Linked DNA regions of Homo sapiens. The protein of the gene in region 1 interacts with the protein of each later gene in a pairwise test. Each region holds a gene or a part of one and is shown in the gene's direction. Other genes may lie near its edges.

The links. Proteins that work in one complex are often made in the same cells at the same time.
Region 2: the proteins of PRKN (region 1) and RNF138 interact in binary tests that used the Homo sapiens proteins (3 or more experiments, as listed by UniProt).
Region 3: the proteins of PRKN (region 1) and RNF112 interact in binary tests that used the Homo sapiens proteins (3 or more experiments, as listed by UniProt).
Region 4: the proteins of PRKN (region 1) and LNX1 interact in binary tests that used the Homo sapiens proteins (3 or more experiments, as listed by UniProt).

What each region holds. Positions count from the first base shown.
Region 1 is NC_000006.12:162,437,246-162,442,164, reverse strand, and holds part of PRKN (E3 ubiquitin-protein ligase parkin), read left to right. Parts: intron 1-4,919. UniProt on the Homo sapiens protein: Functions within a multiprotein E3 ubiquitin ligase complex, catalyzing the covalent attachment of ubiquitin moieties onto substrate proteins. Substrates include SYT11 and VDAC1.
Region 2 is NC_000018.10:32,094,428-32,099,346, forward strand, and holds part of RNF138 (E3 ubiquitin-protein ligase RNF138), read left to right. Parts: intron 1-76; exon of another isoform or gene 77-179; intron 180-4,919. UniProt on the Homo sapiens protein: E3 ubiquitin-protein ligase involved in DNA damage response by promoting DNA resection and homologous recombination.
Region 3 is NC_000017.11:19,413,786-19,418,749, forward strand, and holds the end of RNF112 (RING finger protein 112), read left to right. Parts: intron 1-309; coding exon 310-360; intron 361-663; coding exon 664-720; intron 721-800; coding exon 801-875; intron 876-960; coding exon of another isoform or gene 961-984; coding exon 985-1,102; intron 1,103-1,252; coding exon 1,253-1,422; intron 1,423-1,500; coding exon 1,501-1,554; intron 1,555-1,732; coding exon 1,733-1,807; intron 1,808-1,919; coding exon 1,920-2,390; 3' UTR 2,391-3,491; downstream 3,492-4,964. UniProt on the Homo sapiens protein: E3 ubiquitin-protein ligase that plays an important role in neuronal differentiation, including neurogenesis and gliogenesis, during brain development.
Region 4 is NC_000004.12:53,584,014-53,588,932, reverse strand, and holds part of LNX1 (E3 ubiquitin-protein ligase LNX), read left to right. Parts: intron 1-4,919.

The sequences.
Region 1 (4,919 bases):
AAATGCAAATTGTTCCTGTCATTCTGCATTGCATCTCCTGCTGATGGTGTTGAGGCACATACTCGTTGTGCACAAACTGCTGGCCTCTGCTTTCAGGCAATTTGGTTTTATAAGGGAAGTGCATGTGCTAAAAAGGGTTTTGATTTTTTTTTTTTCTATTTCAGTCAACTAAAAAGATTTTCACTGTATCTGCCAACCTCTAAATCCAAGGATGTTTCCTTCACAAATAAATAATTTTAAAACAGCTCCTTGAATCAAAACATTTTATATTGCCAAAACCTTCAGGTTCTAAACTGCCATTTGTGCTGATTCATAAAACAATTAGCGATTTCATATGTAGTTAGACTAATTGCTTCAGATGATTGACTTTGCAAACATATATGCCTAAGACATGTGTTGATTTATGAGTCTATTTTGACAAACACTTCTTAAGCACTTCCAATGTCCTAGGCTTCTCAGGGGATCCAAAAGAGAGACCTAACTCAGCCCCTGTTTTCATGGAGACTGCTCTTTATTTATGAGCCCTAAAACCGAGAGAAATATTAGATTGAACCATATGGGATTGCCATTTTTACAGGTTCAACAATTTCATGTTGTTCAACCTAATAGCTATAATATAAGAATATGAAACATAACTGCCGTATCGCACCTGAAAATATTATGAAGTTTTAAAGGTGGAGAAAACACATCTGGTTGGAAGTCACCAGGAAGAACTTCTTGGATGAATTGAGTTGAGGTAGGATTCTGTAGATGGAGGAATAGGGGAATGAGCATAGAGAATGCTTGCCAAAAAGGATGGGTTCTTGTTCTTCTAGAACCTGAAGAGAGATGTTGAAGATTGGACAAAAAATAAAATATGGGCTATATTTCACATAACCTTGACTAACTTGGCATTGAAGTTTCATTGGTGGGGAACTAGAGAAAAATGTCATGCCATAGAAGGAAATGGGAAGTCTGAAGACCCGGTTTGGTTGGGGGAAGGATGCTGCATTGTTCCAACATGATGGGAGTTGATGCCAGCTGAGTACGTGTGTTTGGAGATGCCTAGCTGGCTGTTGAGAACTTGTGTCTGAGGACACTGAAAAAGAAAGGTTCATACTTATGGAACTTCTATTAAATCACAGTTAAATGATTTAGGTGCCGAGAAGTTGGCAAACTTTGTTCATAGAAGAGTTTCACTGTAAAGACTAGGAAGTTACACATGTAATTGCAAATTGATGGCTATGTTTTCTTTAAGTGTACAACTGGCAGAATTTTAGCATCCTAGATATTCTTGTATAATCTTAGAACATATGTTTACAACTATTTAGTCAATATCATTTAGTTACCCATTATCATTACAGGTGCTATATTTCACAGTATAAGCACAAAATATCTAATAATAAGTTGCTGCTGAGAAAAAGAAGATGGACCTTCCATATGAGCTACTTAATGCTTCCATTAATGAATGTTAAATATACACCTTGGTGTCCTGAAGAGAAGAAGAGATGGCTGGGGTGGTGTCTATGCTTGCTGGGTGTCTTCCTCCTGGTTTCGTATTCTTTATCATAGGTGATATGAACATATATATTAGCTTATCATGCAAAATGAGATATTGTGAGTATAAAAGAAGACCCTGTCAATAATTATTCCAGGACAAAATTATATGTTGGGAGTGTCCTAGGAAAACTGAGGCAATGGTCACCCCACATACTGAGCAGTATCTCTCACACTTAGTTTCACCTTCTTTGAGGAGGAAATTAGTTTTAGTGCCTCACCTCAGGTACTTTGGGGAACTATAGCTTGAGACCACAGTCTTATGAAATGTCATAATTTTAAAAAGCGAGTTTGTCTATTTAACTGGCAAAGGGTATTTGTAAGATTATAATAGAATTGATGTCACATCTAAAAAATTTTCATAGAATTTTCAGTTCTGGGAGAGCATATCCACAGGCCACTTAGAGAAGCACTGTTAGAGTATAGTTATTTTCATTACACACTCATCTGTTCAGTTTTGTTATTGGCAAGACTTTAAGAACTTTAAAAAATTAAAGGAAAATGGAAAAAATATAGACATTGAAAACGAATGATCTGGCACAGATTTTGCTTCTGGGAAGCTGGAGTAGGCATACTTTTCCCTCTTCCTCCCAGCAACTACACTAAAAAGCCTAGACATTGCATATTGTACAGTTGACTCGTGGAGTCATGGAGTTAGGGGTGCCAACCGCTATGTAGACAAAACTCATGTATACTTTTATCTCCCCTCACACTTTACCAGTAGTCTGCTATTGACGGGAAGCCTTACTGATACCATGAACAGTTGATTAATACATATTTTTCATATGTAATATGTACTGTATGCTTATAATAAAAAAACTAGAGAAAACATTAACAGCATTACAAAAAGGAGAGAGGATACTTACTATTCATTAAGTAGAAGTGGATCATCAAGATTTTCATTGTCTTTGTCTTCATGTTGAGTAGGCTAAAGAGGAAGAGGAAGAGGGGGAGTTAGTCTCACTGTCTCAGGGGTGGCAGAGGCAGAAGAAAATCTGCATATAAATGGACCCATGCAGTTTCAACCCATGTTATTCAAGGGTCCGCTGTACAAGCTTAGGAAGATTCTGAAAGTAGTGAGAAGAATGTGGACAGAGTAGGGATTTTAGAACCCAAGGAAGAATCCAGAGGTGAATTTCTTGAGTTTTCTTTTTGCTACGTTACCTCAGATGTGGAACTGAAGAAGCTGGCAACCAGGAAATGTCAACATATATAGACAAAAAGAAAAGAGAAGAAAAAAGAAGCAGAGAGGAAGGGAGGGGCAGAGAGAGAGAGAGAGAGAGAGAGAAGGGAGGGGTAAAGGAAGGGGGAAGGGAAGGGAAAAGGAAGAAAGGAAGGAAGGAAGAAATCCCCAACAATGGCCTGTTTTTTATCCAGAGGACTCAGAAAGGGGCTGCCTAGCAACATAGAAAACATTTAGACAATAACCAGTCTACTCCAGCCAAATGCAACAGAAAAACTGCGGCCCTATCCTTGTCCCCACCAACACTAGTAAAGGCTGAGTGGAGAGCCTCTTGTTTGAAATTTCTGAAATAAAACACTCACTGATGGGTTTGACATAAGAATGGAAGGAACAGAGAAAAGAGTCAGTGAACTGGAAGTTGGAACATAGAAATGACACGGTCCAAATGGCAAAGAAAAGGTAGGCTGGAAAAAGAAAAAAGGAATAGAGCCTCAGAGACCTGTGGTTCTCCAACAGAGCATTTAAAGTTTGTGTCAGGGGATTCCTGGAAGGAGAAGATAATGGTGGGCAAATGCTCAAAGAAATAAGTGTTGGAAACTTCCAAAGTTTGCAAGAGACATAAAGTTATAGATGGATTTATAAAGCTGAGTGAATCTAAAACAGGAAAAACCCAAAGAAACCCACACCAACACACAACGTAATTCAACTTCTTAAAACTAAAGACAAATTTTAGATCTTGAAAGAAGCCAGAGAAATATCACACCTTCCCTATAGGGCTAACATTGTTCTAATTACAGTGGATTTCTCATCAGAAACCATGAAGGCTAGAAGGAAGTGGCACAATGTTTTTCAAATGCTGAAAGAAAAGAACTGCCAACCTGTAATATTATACCCAGTGAAAATGTCGTTCAGGAAGAAAGAACAAATCAATACTTTTTTTTTTAGATAAAGAAAAACTAAGCGAATTTGTCACCAGCAGACCTACCCTAAAAGAATGGCTAAAGAAATTTTCTAAACAAATGAAACAACAAAAAAAGGAATTTTGGAACACTAGGAAGGAGGGAAAAACATAGTAAGCAAAAATATGGTTAAATACAATGCACTGTTTTTCTCCTCTTGAGTTTTCTAAATTATGTTAGAGGGTTGCAGCAAAAGTTATAGCATTGTCTAATGTAGTTCTACATGTAGAAGAAACATTTCAGGCAAACATAAACACAGATGCAAGGAAAGGTAAGATTTCTAAACTTGACCTACAAAATAGCAACTGCAGTAGAGCATGACAAGTTAAGAATGTATAAAGAAATATCTAGAGTAATAGGTAAAGTAGGTAAATTAAAATACAAAATAAAGACAACACCAAATGCTGGTGAGGATGTGGAGAAATTGGATTACTCGCAAATTGCTACTGGGAATATAAAATGGTAGAACCACTCTGGAAAAGAATATAGCAGTTTCATAAAAAATGACATATGTATTTACCAGATGACAGAGTTATACTCTTAGTTATTTATCCTAGAGAAATGAAGACGTAGGTACACACACAAATCTGTATATGAATGTTTATAGCAGTTTTATTCACATTAGCAGAACACGGAAACAACTCTGATGTCTTTCAGTGGATCTGTGGTTCAACAAACTGGTACCTCCACACCCTAGAATATTACTCAGCAGTAAAAAAGGAGCCGACTGTTGATATACAAAATATCTTGGATGGATCTCAGGGGAAATGTGCTGTGTGGAAAAAGCCCATCCCCAAAGATCGTACACTGAATAATTTTATTTATATAACATTCTCAAAACGACAAAATGATAGAAATGGAGGGCAGATTCATGCTTCCCAGCAGTTCTGAAGGGGGTGGAAGCAGGTGAGAGGAGGGTACGACTGTGAAAGGGTAACAGAAGGGACCCTTTGGTGACGGCCGTCCTCTGTGCTGACTGTAACAATGCTTATAGTACAATTATAACGTCTAGCTTGGCAAGATGTTACCACTGGCGGAAGCTGGGGAAAAGGTAGCTGGCATCTTTCTCTGCTATCTCTTACAACTGCGTTAGAATGTGTAAGCATTTTAATATAAAGTTGAATTTAAAAAAAACCTAGGATATCTGTCCACTTTCACAGAGGAATTGAAACTATCACTTTCTTAGAAAATAAGCTTGCTATTTGTCTCTCTTTTAAAGGGAGAGTATGTATTCAATGAGT
Region 2 (4,919 bases), on another chromosome or scaffold:
TGCTCTTTAAGGGAGATGAATGACATCTTGTTATTTTGTGCAACAAATGCAGATTCTTAGGGAAATGTTTTGAGGGATCCTTTTGCGGTTCATAGTGTGATGATTGAGTGTTCACAGGCATGTGTGAGATATGCCATCCTCAAACCTTGTTACAGGGTCAGCACATTACCCATCTGACATGAAAAAAAAAACGTTTGGAGGTGTCTAGGGCACAATATAGATCTTCCACCTTTAATCTAGCATAACTTGGTCCCTTTCCAATATTTAAAAAAAATTTAAGTGCTGTGTTGGCATTGGGTAGATAAAAGGGAGGGAGGAGAGCAAGGTGAGAGGAAGTTGTAATAGCTGCTAACTATATATATATATATAAAGCAGGTCTTTTTTGGATAGAATCATTCTAATTATCCTTTGGGTCATTGACCTAATGGGCCTCATTGTAGTTTTTAGCACTCCCCAAAATTCCGTGTAGATTGCTCTAGTCCGCTTCCCTTGTGGGACATTTTAAATCAAGGTTTATAATTTGATTTGACCTCAAGACTGTGGAAAATGTTGGAGATGATTGTTTTTAATTCAGGACCTTTCTCAAATCAACTTATTGTACGTAGACAGTTCTGCCTGAACAATGAATTAAAAGAATAGGCAGAGGGAGAAAAAAAGTTTAATTTGGAAGAGGTGGTAATGGAGGAACAGGATTTTAATCAGTTGGAAGGAGTTTAGTGGGGGAATTGGAGAGAAATTTTAAAAATTATCGTTTTTTTTTGAGACATGGTCTTATTCTGTTGTCCAGGGTGGAGTGCAGTGGTGTGATCATGTTTCATTGCAGCCTTGACCTCCCCCGTTGGAGCAACCCTCCCGCCTCAGCCTCTCAAGTTGCTGGGACTACAGGAGCATGCCTCCATGCCTGACTAATTTTGTTTTCTTTTTTATAGAGACAGGGCCTCACTACGTTGCCCAGTCAGATCTTGAACTCCTGGGCTGAAGTCATCCTCCTGTCTTGGCCTCCAAAAGTGCTGGGATGACAGGCGTGAGGCATGGCACCTGACCTGTTTTTTAATTAACATAGTTATCTATGTCATTTGCTCTACCTTCTTCACAAAGGACAGACCTATGCCTTTAAAGAAATTTATATTTGGCTGCAAAATCAATTTTTGATTCACGAATAGAGAGTTGAAGTGATAAGGGCTTTGGGTTACTGTGGATCAGTTAGAAAATGAAAAATTTTAATTGCCATTTCAATGACAGGAAAGGATTTGACTACTGACTATCCTAGTAAAAGGAGCAAGTTCATTATCATTAGAATAACATTACTAAAATATAAACTCCCGTTTAATCCCCATTCATTCCCTGAAACTGCAGTTGTTGAATGCTCTTTGTCTGGTGCAGGGACTACTAAGTACTGTTTCTCTGGAGACTTAATAGTCCGCTGGAGAGACCTATAAATGAGTGTGATTGATATAGAAGAGATTTTATGTGAGCATCTAGAGCAGGTATCTAAATTAGCCTAAAGGATAGGGATAATTTCCTAGATGAAGTAATGCCTTAGGTCAGCGTTTGTATTCAGTGTTTGTGGGGAATGCCAGAGTCAAGGAGGGTACAGAGGATGAATGTGAGCTGGACTTTGAAGTTTGGCTGGAGCCAAAGACAGCGTAGTGGAGATGGAGCTTAGCGTTATTGGCAGGAACTTACTGTGTAAGCTAATTTGAGTGTTTTCCTGAAAACCTATTAAATAATTAGATAACCTAATGAATAATACTAGACCTAGTAAATAATTTTTGGCAGGGGAGCAGCGTGGTCACATTTCATTTTTAGAAAGTTTACCTTCATAGCAGGGTTTTCAGCTTGGTAGTGGTGAGACTAGTGAAGAGGTCGGTCATTCATTGATGTGTCAGGGAGAGAAATGATTAGAACCTGAACTAAGGAAATGATAGTAGGAATGGAGCAGAGAGACTCCTGACATTTTAAGGACAGTGTAAGATTTGATGACTGGGTTCAGTAGTTAAGTGTGTATACCATATGTAGATCTGGAATACATGGAGCTAAAGCTGTGGGTGTCGAAGTGGTCACCGAGTGAGGTATATAAATGGAAAGATTGAAGAGCACCTAGATAGAGCCAAGTGTTGGAGAATACTTACTTAAATATCGAGTGGAGAAAATTGCAGCCAGACAAGGAACGAACAGAAGGATAGGAAGAAAACCAGGAATAAAGTGAGAGTGGAAACTGAGGATTCAGATCATCTGCAAATGATTGTTAAGGAAGCAGTCAGCATTTTCAGAGGCCTTAGAGTGGTCAGATGTAATTTTGTTTTTGTTTTTGTTTTTTTTGAAATAGGGTCTCGCTCTGTTGCGAGGAGTGCAGTGGCATGATCATAGCTTACTGCAGCCTCGACCTCCCAGGCTCAAGAAATCTTCCCACCTCAACCTCCCAAGTAGCTAGCTGGGACTACAGGCACTCACCACCATGCCTGGCTATTAAAAAAAATTTTTTTGTAGAGATGGGTCTTGCTTTGTTGCCCAACCTAGTCTCTAACTCCTGGGTGCAAACCGTCCTCCTGCCTCAGCCTCCCAAAGTGCTGGGATTACAGGCAAGAGCCTCCACACCTGGCAGATGTAATATTTTGAAAAACATGTTAAGACAAATTAATATGAAAGTTGAGCAGGTAGTCAAAGCAAGGCTTCAGAAGAAAGTACAGACTGGCGTAGGAGTAAGGTGTTTATCTCTTTTGGTGTTTTATTCTGTAATCTTCAAAGGCTCTTGGAAACCTCTGTTCTTCCTTGTTTTGAACAGTCAAGGAAATAATTCTTGTACATGGCAGAAGTAAGCTACTATTGCAATAAAAATTACATATAACAAGTTTGATTCTTTGCTGAACTCTTAAAAATGGAAATCTAATCTGTTTTTGCTTTTAGGCCTCTCTGTAAGGAGGCATCTTTTAAAATGAACTTCTACTTCTTGTTAAGCACAAATTTGTGTAATTTCCTATTTGACCAGCTTGAACATCCAGTTCCTGAGTTTTTAGTTCATATTTACTTTTTTTAATCCTTAATTTTAAAACAATTTTAAATTAATTATTTATTTTTGAGACCGAGTCTCTGTTGCCCAGGCTGGAGTGCAGTGGTGGGATCTTGGTTTACTGTAACCTCCACCTCCTGGATTTAAGCGATTCTCCTGCCTCGTCCTCCTGAGTAGCTGGGACTACAGGCACAACAAGTAGCTGGACTACAGGCATGCACCACCATGCTCGGCTAATTTTTGTTTTTTGTTTTTTTGTATTTTTAGTAGAGATGAGGTTTCACTATATTGGCCAGGCTGGTCTCGAACCCCTGCGCTCAAGTGATCTGCCCGCCTTGGCCTCCGAAAGTGCTGGGATTATAGGCATGAGCCACTATCCTCGGCCTAATTAATTAATTTAGAAACAGGGTCTCACTCTGTTGCTCGGGCTATATATATGTATATATGTGTATGTATATGTGTATGTATGTGTATTTGTGTGTGTGTGTGTATATGTGTATGTATATATGTGTGTGTGTGTGTGTGTGTGTGTGTGTGTGTTATTTTTGTTTGTTTGTTTGTTTGTTTTGAGACAGTCTCACTGTGTTGCCCAGGCTGGATTGCAGTGGTGCGGTCTTGGCTCACTGCAACCTCCCACCTCCCTGGTTCAAGCGATTCTACTCCCTCAGCCTCCCAAGTAGTTGGGATTACAGGCGTGCACCATCACGCCCTGCTAATTTTTTGTATTTTTAGTAGAGACAGGGTTTTACCATGTTGGCCAGGCTGGTTTTGAACTCCAGGCTGGTTTTGAACTCCTGACCTCAAGTGATCCTCTTGCCTTGGCCTCCCAAAGTGCTAGGATTACAGGTGTGAGCCACTGCGCCCACAATATATTTCTTATAGTTTAAATTTTTTAGAGATGGGGTCTTGCTTTGTTGCTCAGGCTGGTCTCAAACTCCTGGTCTCAAGCAGTCCTCCCACCTGAGCCTCCTGAGTAGTGGGGACTACAGGTGAGTGCCACAGCACCTGGCTTTGTAATTTTAACAGCTTTATTGGTATCTTGTTACTTGAGTAGTTATGCTCTAAGTATATACTTTAAAATAATTTTCTTCTTTCCTAAAATCTGTGCTATTTAATTATATAATAAAGGTTGAGGCCGGGCGCAGTGGCTCACGCCTGTCATCCCAGCACTTTGGGAGGCCGAGGCAGGCGGATCACAAGGTCAGGAGATCGAGACCATCCTGGCTAACACAGTGAAACCCTGTCTCTACTAAAAATACAAAAAAATTAGCCGGGTGTGGCGGCAGGCGCCTGTAATCCCAGCTGTTCGGGAGGCTGAGGCAGGAGAATGGCATGAACCCGGGAGGTGGAGCTTGCAGTGAGCTGAGATGGTGCCACTGCACTCCAGCCCGGGCGACAGAGTGAGACTCCGTTTCAAAAAAAAAAAAAAAAAGATTTACTTAATTTTAAATCTTGAGGACTAGTTTACAACCTTTGATTTTTTTTTTTTTTGAAGTTTTTTTGGGGAATGATCTCGATTATCGACTCGGAAAATAGATAGACTAAGTGCCAGATTTTAAATTATTTAATTTATACTGAAATTGGGAGCATGATGAGTGGGAATATTGTTTTTCCTCTCCCAGTGTTGTTGATTAGCCTTTTGTTGGGAGAATGCGTAATGGAAATTCGTCTAGCATCTGCTAGTTTAAAGTTGAGAGAAATGTAAAGAGACCTTTTTTGGTTATAGGGTAATGCCCTGTTCTGAAGATACGGGCCTTTTCAGGAACATGAAAATTAGTTTTAGTAATTCTTGATTTGTACCTTTTTCCTTCCTACTTCTGCTTTGTTTTGAAATAAGTTCTGTCTAGCACTTTGATCCATTCCAGCCCAAAGTGAGATGAGAATAATTCGTTTTATGTCTGAAGAAACA
Region 3 (4,964 bases), on another chromosome or scaffold:
ATAGGTTCTGGGGCTGCCTTAGAAGGGGGAAGGTGCTCCTAGTTGGTGAAGGTGGGAACGTGGGTTATTCCTAAAAGTGGGCTGATGGTCCCAGGGGCAGCTGAAGACCTGATGGATCACATTACCCTCCAGGCTTGTCTCCGGCCTTGAGGCCAGCCCAGCCCTGCAGCCTTCGAGGCCCCCATACTGGCCTCTCCCATACTCTGAGGCCCACAGGCTGCCTGCGAGCTCCCTACTCACCAGGGCCTTCCCCAGTGAAGTCACCCGGCCTCTGTAATCTCTCATACATGTTGTTCTCTCTGATTCCAGATCCTCAGCACCTCCCAGGAGCTGAAGGATACAGACCTGGACTATCTGGAGGTAAAGAGACCTCTGATGTTGGGGCATCCCCCACCCCCACCCTCCCCACTAGGGCTGGACCCAAAGGAACTAGGTGCCCTCCTGGTCTGGCCTAGGGTTTTATGACACTTGAACAGGGTTGAAGGGGGAGGGTGGAGAGTAAAGCAAGAGATGTGTGGTCTGGGGAGAGGCAGGAGAACCCCAGGCTGCAAAAGGGGGAGCCTAGCTCCTACAGCAGGCGTAGGGAGGTGGGGAGACAGGCTTGGGGTGCACCATAGTCCTCAAAGTGGCCCAGCCCTGACGCTTTCTGTGTCCCACCCCCAGATGTTTGTCCACGTGGCCGAGGTGATGGGCAAGCATTATGGGATGGTGCCAATCCAGGTGAGACACCTATCTCTGGATTCATTGGCCCCAGGCCCCGCCACCCCCATTTGCTGGTGTCAGGACCCCTTCTCTTTCAGCATCTGGACCTCTTAGTTCGTGACTCATCCCACCCCAACAAGGCAGGGCAGGGGCATGTAGGCAACATCTTCCAGGTGAGTGGTGCAAGGGGATGGGGTGGAGGGGCCATGGACAGGGCAGAGGTGGGGAAGACATGGGAGGCTGGACCTCCTAGCTCAGAGCACTCCTCTCGCTGCCTCACAGAGATTGTCTGGCAGATACCCCAAGGTGCAGGAGCTGCTGCAAGGGAAGCGAGCCCGTTGCTGCCTCTTGCCTGCCCCAGGGAGGCGGCGGATGAACCAAGGCCATGCAAGCCCTGGTGGTGAGTGTCTCTGAGAGCTGAACCTCTCTTGCGCTGCTCCCAGCTCCCCTCCGGCAACCGAGCCCCTTGAAGCACCCACCTCTCCTGGCCTCTGACACCCCTTCTCCTCCCAAAGCCCGCAGTCTCTCAGCATGCACATCTCTCCCTCAGACACAGATGATGACTTCCGCCACCTTCTGGGGGCCTACGTCTCAGATGTGCTGAGTGCGGCCCCCCAGCACGCTAAGAGCCGCTGCCAGGGGTACTGGAACGAGGGGCGCGCCGTGGCCAGGGGGGACAGACGCCTACTCACGGGGCAGCAGCTAGCTCAGGAAATCAAGGTGTGAAAACTCCCTGGAGACCCAGGCGACTCGGCTGGGCCCCTGCTCTCCCTGACCCCAGCGATGGTATCTCCGCAGAACCTCTCAGGATGGATGGGGAGGACAGGGCCCGGTTTCACCTCTCCGGATGAGGTATGAGCGCTGGGGGATCCAGCATTCTGGCAGGGAGACAGGGGAGGCAGGGAGGTGGGGGCTGTGCCGAGGCCTCCGGGGTGGGGGTCTGTGTGCCCTGGGAGTGGAGATGAGGAAACAAGCAGCGCCCCTGGCTGAGAAGGAAGGAAGGAGGCAGCCTGGGTTTTCCCGTGGACAGATGGCTGCTCAGCTGCACGACCTGAGGAAGGTGGAAGCTGCCAAGAGGGAGTTCGAGGAGTATGTGAGGCAGCAGGTGAGCCCCGGGGCTGCACGGGAGGCAGGTGTGGGCCGGGCAGGGTCCAGATCAGGGAGAGGATACCTGGGACTCCTGGTCAGGGCACCTTCTTTTCCCCTCCCTGTCACAGGACGTAGCCACCAAGCGCATATTCTCTGCGCTGCGGGTCCTGCCAGACACCATGCGGAACCTCCTCTCCACCCAGAAAGATGCCATTCTGGCCCGCCATGGTGTGGCCTTACTCTGCAAGGGGAGAGATCAGACCTTGGAGGCACTGGAAGCTGAGCTGCAGGCCACGGCCAAGGCCTTCATGGACTCCTACACGATGCGCTTCTGTGGCCACCTAGCTGCTGTGGGGGGTGCTGTGGGGGCCGGGCTCATGGGCCTGGCAGGGGGCGTGGTGGGTGCTGGCATGGCAGCAGCTGCACTGGCTGCAGAGGCTGGGATGGTGGCTGCTGGAGCTGCCGTGGGGGCCACAGGGGCCGCTGTGGTTGGGGGTGGCGTGGGTGCTGGGTTGGCTGCCACAGTGGGCTGCATGGAGAAGGAGGAGGATGAGAGGCTTCTGGAAGGGGACCGAGAGCCCCTTCTCCAGGAAGAGTAACAGCCCCAGGAGGTATTGAAGGACAGGAGAGATGTCAGGTGGGGATGAAGAAGAGGGGCAGGTCGGGGGAGGGTGATGCCAGGGATTCCAAGGCACCGCCATGTACTGCACTGCCCTGGTCGAATGCTCGGTGTCTGGGTGGCAGCTGAGCTGGGACTCAAGGTGGCTCTTGGAACCTGGGAGGCAGCATCTGGGGGCAGTGGATAGAACACCCGGCCTGTTTCTGGTTGCAGATGGTTGCCGATCTGCCCTTGTCACAGATAGGCTACATCCCAGGGTTTCTGGCTGCAAGTGAGACTCCACCCTCCCCACCTGGCTCATTTCCCCGATGACCCTGGATTGTAGGAAAGTTAAGCAGGCACCATCCTGGAAGTCTACCCCTAGGTGGTCGAGAGACCTGTTCTTTCACAGATGTGAGAAGCCCCAGGATGATTGACCATGGTGTTCAGGAGCGGGGAGCACTGATGAGGTGCTGGGGATGACAGGAAGGAAGGAACACTGGGCAGAACCAGAGAGATGGGACATGGTAGACTGTGGCCCAGACCCCAGAGCAGAGAAACTTGTTCCCATGACCCTTCCCAAATCTGCTCCAGCAGGACTAAGGTGGCTTTCCCACTCCTGGCCCACAGCCCCAGAGAGCCTGTCTGTGCATCCTGAACCACTCTTTGCTGGGCCTCCGCAAGGGCCTCTCTTGGGTCTGTGTCCTTTTTCAAGCCTGTTTAGATGGGGGAGTGCCCATGCCCTCTGTGAAGTGCCCAAATGCGAAAGAATAACACCTTTTCTTGCATTCTGAGCTAAGCCAGACAGCCTTTATACTAGATTCTATCAAAATCTTGCAAAGGAAAACAAAATGAACAACTTCTACCCTTAAACACATCCTTTCTCCCCTGGGCTTGTAAGAAGATGCAGCTTGATGCAGCTCCTCAAACACCAGGCCCCCTGGGAACTGGGGGTGCGGGAGTTCTCCCTCTGGGGGACAGAAAATCTGACTACTAGGAAGACTTCTAGGCTATGAAACTGACTTCTAGGCTATGAAACTTACAGGGTATGGGTGGGCACATTATCCTTTATTTTATGAAAAATAAAATGTGTGTATGTGAATGTCAGCTTCCCAGTATATTATTGAAACAGAATTTAACCCTCAGATGACTTCATGGTGGGAGCAGGTGAACCAATGAGATCCATTGCTGGAATGCACAGATGGGAAGAGGGAGATTGGAATTCAAGAGATCCAAGGAAGTGAACGTCAGAGGTCCCCATTCAGTGGCTGCAAGAGGCCTCAGGCCAAGGCCAAGTGGATATGGGCACCTTTGCAGGCTCTTCCACTAGGACTTGGGGTTCCGCTCCTCTTGTCTCCTCTCTGAGAAACTGCTTCCCATGATCCTGTCAACAGGCAGTCAACAAGCACCTGTCCCAGCAAGAGGACAGAATGGATACATAAGCAGAGAGAACTTGGTCAAGCCTTGAAGGAAGGAGAAGCCCAGGACCACTTCTGCAGGGCTCAGCCAGCCAGGAGTTCACCCAACTGATTCTCCTCCCAGCCCTGCTCCCCAGCTCCCCAGCTCCCCATCTCAGAACCACAGCAGTAGTCACTGCATCCAATCCTGGCATTTTATAGGTGCACACCCAGAGAGAGAAAGTCTCAGATAAGCCTGTGCAGCTGCTGATGACAGAAGCAGGGGAACCCCGAAGTCCTGGTTCCCAAGCTGGTGCACTTCCTGAAGTTATTTTGTTAAGGTCGACTGTGCTGAAATTGAGATGCTCCTTTTCAGATGCTTCTTCTGGCTGATCAGGTCCAGCTCCAGGGAAGTGTGTGGTGGGCAGAGGCAGCAACGTGGTCTAGAACAGATGGCTCAGCAGTGAAGCTATAGTTAACAGGCTGGGGACAAAATACAGAATGTAGAGAAATCCCAAAGCCAGGGTGGGGTTGAGTGGGGTAAAGACAAATGAGAGTGACTCTCTCTTTTAGGGTCTGAGCCAAGGGTGGGAACAGGGTCTTAACTTTGTGTAGTGTTTGTGGAGAAGGACTTTCTGGAAGCATCTTTCTGAGCCCTTCCACTGTCATCTGGTGGACACATGAGCTATGAAACCTTCCAGACTTTGGAGGCTCAGGATGAGGGGGCCCAGAGACTCAGAGAGGGAGGGTGTTACATGGCTAGAATCCCACCCGGCAGCACTGGAAGGAACAACAGTTCAGTGTCTACCTCTCCCCACTCTTTGCACAGATGGGAAGAAGTTGGCCCAGTGAGGGATGTCTCTGCAGAGACAAGATGAGTAATATTAAGTGGTGTTTGTCTTGTGCCTTGTAGCTTTCAAAACATTTCCTCAAACATTATCTCCCTTAAGCCTTGAAATCATCTCAAGCAGTATGTAGAACACACATTTTCACAGAGGAGGACGCTGAAGCTGAGAGAAATAATGTGTCTCAGTGGAAACAACTAGTCAGAGGTAGGCCAGGACTTGACCCCAAGAGTTCTGGTGCCAAATCCCTGGCTCAGTGGAGCCTTCAAGCCTCTCCAGACTCCAAGACGACCAGGCTTCTGGGTTCCAAACCTGATTAGTTGGCTTCCTGGG
Region 4 (4,919 bases), on another chromosome or scaffold:
CTTGTCATGCAATACCCTGTGCCCTTGGGTGACCTTGAGTCATTGCATATGAGCAGTTGTGTGCCCAGGGCCCTGGTCACTTCTCTGGGTCTCGCCCTTCAGGGATACCACAAATTTTCATCATTCAAGAGTAAGGGATTAGTGGATTGAGGTCAGTGGGTTCTACTGTTCTACTAGCTTGCCTACGGAGCCCTAAGGGAGAACCTCAACCCCCCTGCATGTCAGTTTCCTTAGCTACATTTTTCCCCAAAGGACGCTAAAATGGTGTACTTCACAGGCCCCCTCCATCCTTACAACTGAAGCAAGGTGGGCTGCATGTCCAGGTGGGTAGGTCAGACTGACTGGGGGGACTGGGTAGTGCCTCACTAGAAAATATCAATCTTATTCATTCCATTCTAGGTGGGGCAATGCTACTGCTTTAGAATAGTGGTCTGGTCTCTGGCATCAGGCTGCCTACCTGGGTTTTTGAAACCCAGATCTACCATGTGCTACCTGTGTGACCTGGGACAGATTCTTTAAGCTGCTCTCATCAGCTGTGTAATAGGGTTATCATGAAGATGAAATGGGTTGAAATGTGTAAAGTGCTTGGAATGGTACCTGCCACAGTGTTACTTGTAAATATTGAAAGGAAGGCATAGTTGATAGTATCAGACAGGTCTGTGTATCAGACCCAGTTCTACCATGTAGTTGCTAGCCTAAATAAGTTCCTTAATATTTCTTTGCTTTGGTTTCATCAGCTGGGAAATGAAATACTTCCCAGACTCAGAGCTGTTGGGAGGAATAATTGAAATAATTACATGGAAAGTGCCTGGCATATTTTAAATGTTCAGTGAGTGTTAACTATTGTTATATTATTTTAAACATTTTTATATTGCTTACAGTTAGACATCTTAGGTCATGCTACTATCTGGATGTAATAATGATGGAAACGGTAGTACGTTGAGGGCCAAAGACTGAGCAAAAAAAGATTTCCCAAAAGGCTCCCAAAGGCAGAGGAGGAAAACCTGTTAACAAAGATTGTGTTGTTTCTCTTGGAGTTCCAGGGTAGAGTGGCTGCCAGTGGAAATGCCTGGTCTTTCATAAACCTGTGGGGAGTGGGCTTCTGTGATGTGAGTAAACAGCGGGTCTTCCTGGAGCGGTGATTTCCTGGCTTCACCTGTCACTGTCTCCTTGTCTCCAAGACCTTGGCTAAGACTTCCTTTCTATATTTGAATTCCTCACTTAAAGTGGAGAAAATAGGGTCTGGTGGGATCTTGACTACTTTTTTTTTCCTTTCACTCTCTTGACCAGGATACGATCTTGACTACTCGAAATGCCGTCTGTAAGATGCTGGCAAGGCGAGGACACATAAGAGATGCTCTAAAGTGTGTCCTCCTCATTGCCTCAGTATTCATGGACTTCCCAGTAGCATACAACTATTCCTAATATTTATGTACTGACATTACATAGACTCTCTTTTATGTGGTTGGCAAATTTATTGTCCTCTGACAATGCCTCCAAAGTATCAAAGGCTTTTCAAAACTGTTTGGAAGGAAGACTGTGTCACTGTTCCTGGGTTAATATGATTTAATCATTAACTATCCCCAAAGAATAGGGTTGACATGAAAACCATAAAAAAACCATAAAATGTGGAAAACTACACTGAGCTGAAATCAGGAACAGAAAACGTTTGTTGTCTCCCGTAAACTTTCTGTGTTTACCCTTTCCTCCATTTTGTTCTGTGTGACATGAGGACACCACAGTGACCTATTTGGTTAGTTACACAGATACACACTTCAGATCAGTAAGAGGAAGAACTTTCTATGAATTAGAGTTGTCCGAAAATGTAGTAGGTTGCCTTTTGGGATACTGAGTTTCTTGTCACTGAAGGTGATCATTTTTTTTGGCATATTTAGTGCATGGTGTATGTTTGCTGGATGAGTGAATGAATTAATAAATGAATGACAAAGAGGATTTGTGTTTTTCAGCTGCACATACACTCATCTGTAAAGTGAAGATTACCTTAATGATCTCATAGGATTATTTTAGATTAAATGAAAAAACATGTTGAATACCCAGCACAGTATCTTGCATATTGCAAACTGCTCATTAAATAGTAATAATCATTATTTTTTATTTTATATTCTAAAAAGAATTTCTGCCTCAGGTAGAAGGTAGACAAGATGATCCACCAATTTGAGATTTGCAGTTTTTACAATCATCTGTTTACTCTTGTTCTCTTTGCCTTTGCCCTTCTTCACCTATCCATCTGAAAGAACTTCTCTCTGCTCTAGAAAGCCAAGTTCCTTGGCATGGTAGGCTGACTAGTACACTTCTAACAGTGGGAGCAAGTTCTATCCCAATTAACCGGGGACATTTTTGGTAACATCACTAATTTGTGACTTAGAATATGTGGACTTAGACTCCATGATTTTTTTCAAGTGACTCTTATTTGCTTCTTGTGTTTGACGCATTTGTCACAGGCACACAAAAGACTTCACCAGCAGCAGAGTCGAAACTCTCCAAGAATTTTCTTTAATAGCTTCTTGGCACAATAGCACATGCATGATGGGGAGGTCTAAATATGTCATTGCTATCTGCTGAGATGATTTGCATAACTTGCTTATGACTGCTTTTGACAGTCACGTGGCCTTTTCTGAATAGAGCGCAGCATGTTTAGGCTCCTGCATACTCGCATGAATACATGAGTCACCATGTGTTTTCAGACTCCTCATTAAATATGATTGTCTGACTTATATTACATCTTCCACAACATACACACACTCAGCCATTCTATCTGTGGCCTTTTTTTTTTCCCTTGAGGCCCTTTGCAAATTTAGTCTAACAGTCATCTCTGAAAGCATCTGTATTCTAACTTATTAATGAATTAAAGGGAAATTAATACATTTTCTAATAGGGTAGAGTTGCTAAATATGTAGCAATCTATGTGGCTGCTGTCTCCAAATATTTTTCCCTATTTCTAAGCCCTATAGAGAAGTGTTGGAAAGGATCGTTGGGAGCATTCACCCCATTCCTGCAGGAATACCCCTGGAAATATGTAACCCCTGTATTTCTAGGGCTGCCATAACAAATACCCATAAACTTGGTGGCTTAAAACAACTCCCATTTATTGTCTCACAGTTCTGGAGGCTGGAAGTTTGAAATAAAGGTAACAGCAGGGCCACACTCCTCTGAAGGCTCCAGGAGAGGGTCTTCTCTGGTCTCTTTCAGTTTCTAGTAGCTCTAGACATTCCTTAGCTTGTGGGTGCATAATTCCAATCTCTGCCTCTCTCCTCACATCACCTTCTCCTCTGCGTTTGTGTCTTCTCCTCCTGTCTTATAAGTGTCTAAGGACATCTGTCATTGAATTTAGGACCCACTCAGATAATCCAGAATGATCTCATCTCAAGATCCTAAACCTCATGACACCTTCTTAGATCGTTTTCCTGTAAGGTCATAGTCACAGGTTCTGGGGTTAAGACATGGATATATCTTTTGCAGGGACCCTCATTCTACCCACTGTATCCCCAGCTGACAACCATATACACAAGCTCTTCCAACTACTTATGGAGAGATTTCTTGTCCACTTGGAGGCTGAAATACTGAGCAAAGTACAGGCAAGGAGAGTCAGAATTGGCAGCCATCATCACTACCTTCATTTATTTCTATGTTCATGCCACAGTAGTAAGTGTTTTGTACTCTAAAGGCCTACTGAGTTCTTCCAGTCAACAGTGTGAGATATCTAATAAGACAAAACAGTAAAAACCATCATAGATTGCATTAGTAAACACATAGTATCCTGGTTAAGGAAGTGATCACTCCACTGAATCCTGAGTCCTCCAAACCAAAACAGGATAACTTCACTTCCAGGTACGGGTTTTCAAAGGGACCTTAACAAACTAGAAGGCATCCTGGGTAGATCTTTTACCACCATCTGGACTACCCAGGAAGACAATTGGAAGAACCAAAGACAAAGATAAAAACAAGGGAGGAACCACCCAATGCTGTCTTTAATTTGGGGATGTGTGTGTCATGTTTTGAGTAAGCAAATGTGATATACGTTACACTGAAAGGCAGAACAAGGCCAAAGGTCAAAGTAACGTGGGAAGCACTAGCTATTTGAAAAACTGACCAGTTCTCCATCAGTGGAAGTGTTTCAGATAGAAGCTGGTAGGTGCTGTAGGGATCTTGAAAAGAGGATTTTTCTACTTGGTGAAAATCTAAGTTCCTTAACCGATCAAAATCCTATGACTTCTAAATAAATCATTTTAAAACCTCACATAGAGGTCGTCATATGGGTCACATCAAGAGATCACTACTCTTCCTTGATTGACACATTTGCTCAGGTTCTTCTCACCTGGATTACTTCCCACTTGTCCAGATCGCATTTATCATTCGTGATCCTTCCCAAGGACCGTCTATCCCATTAACTTTCCTTGATTGTTCTGGGCCACATGCACTCTCTATTGTCTCTCCTCCAAAGCTTGTCCATGGCTCCTGTCTTGGGGCATTATACACATTGCCATGTATTATGTATTCTCTTGCAGTGTTTTTACATTTTTTTTCCTGTGGATAAACTCTGTTTTCATAATTAGACTTAAATGTATTGGAGATGAAATGGAATTCCCTACAGGAACTCCCACAGAGTTTAAGGCCAATCCCAGGCATGGATTAGGCAAAGCCATGACCCCTGTAGAATTGAAACACAGCCGGAAAATGTTGAGAATTCAAATATCTTTCCTCATCTTGTCCTTCCCTCTGTAAAACTTGGTTATCTGTTTTAAAAAAAACAACAACAACAGAAAAAAAACCATACACACATAAACACTTTTTGAAATTGTTTTTCAGCTTTGGATGAAAGAATGTCAGTTTGCTTCTTTTCCATACCCCTCTGATATCAGCTCTTCCCGGGATCCTTGGTGACTCCTAGCATGAACAGA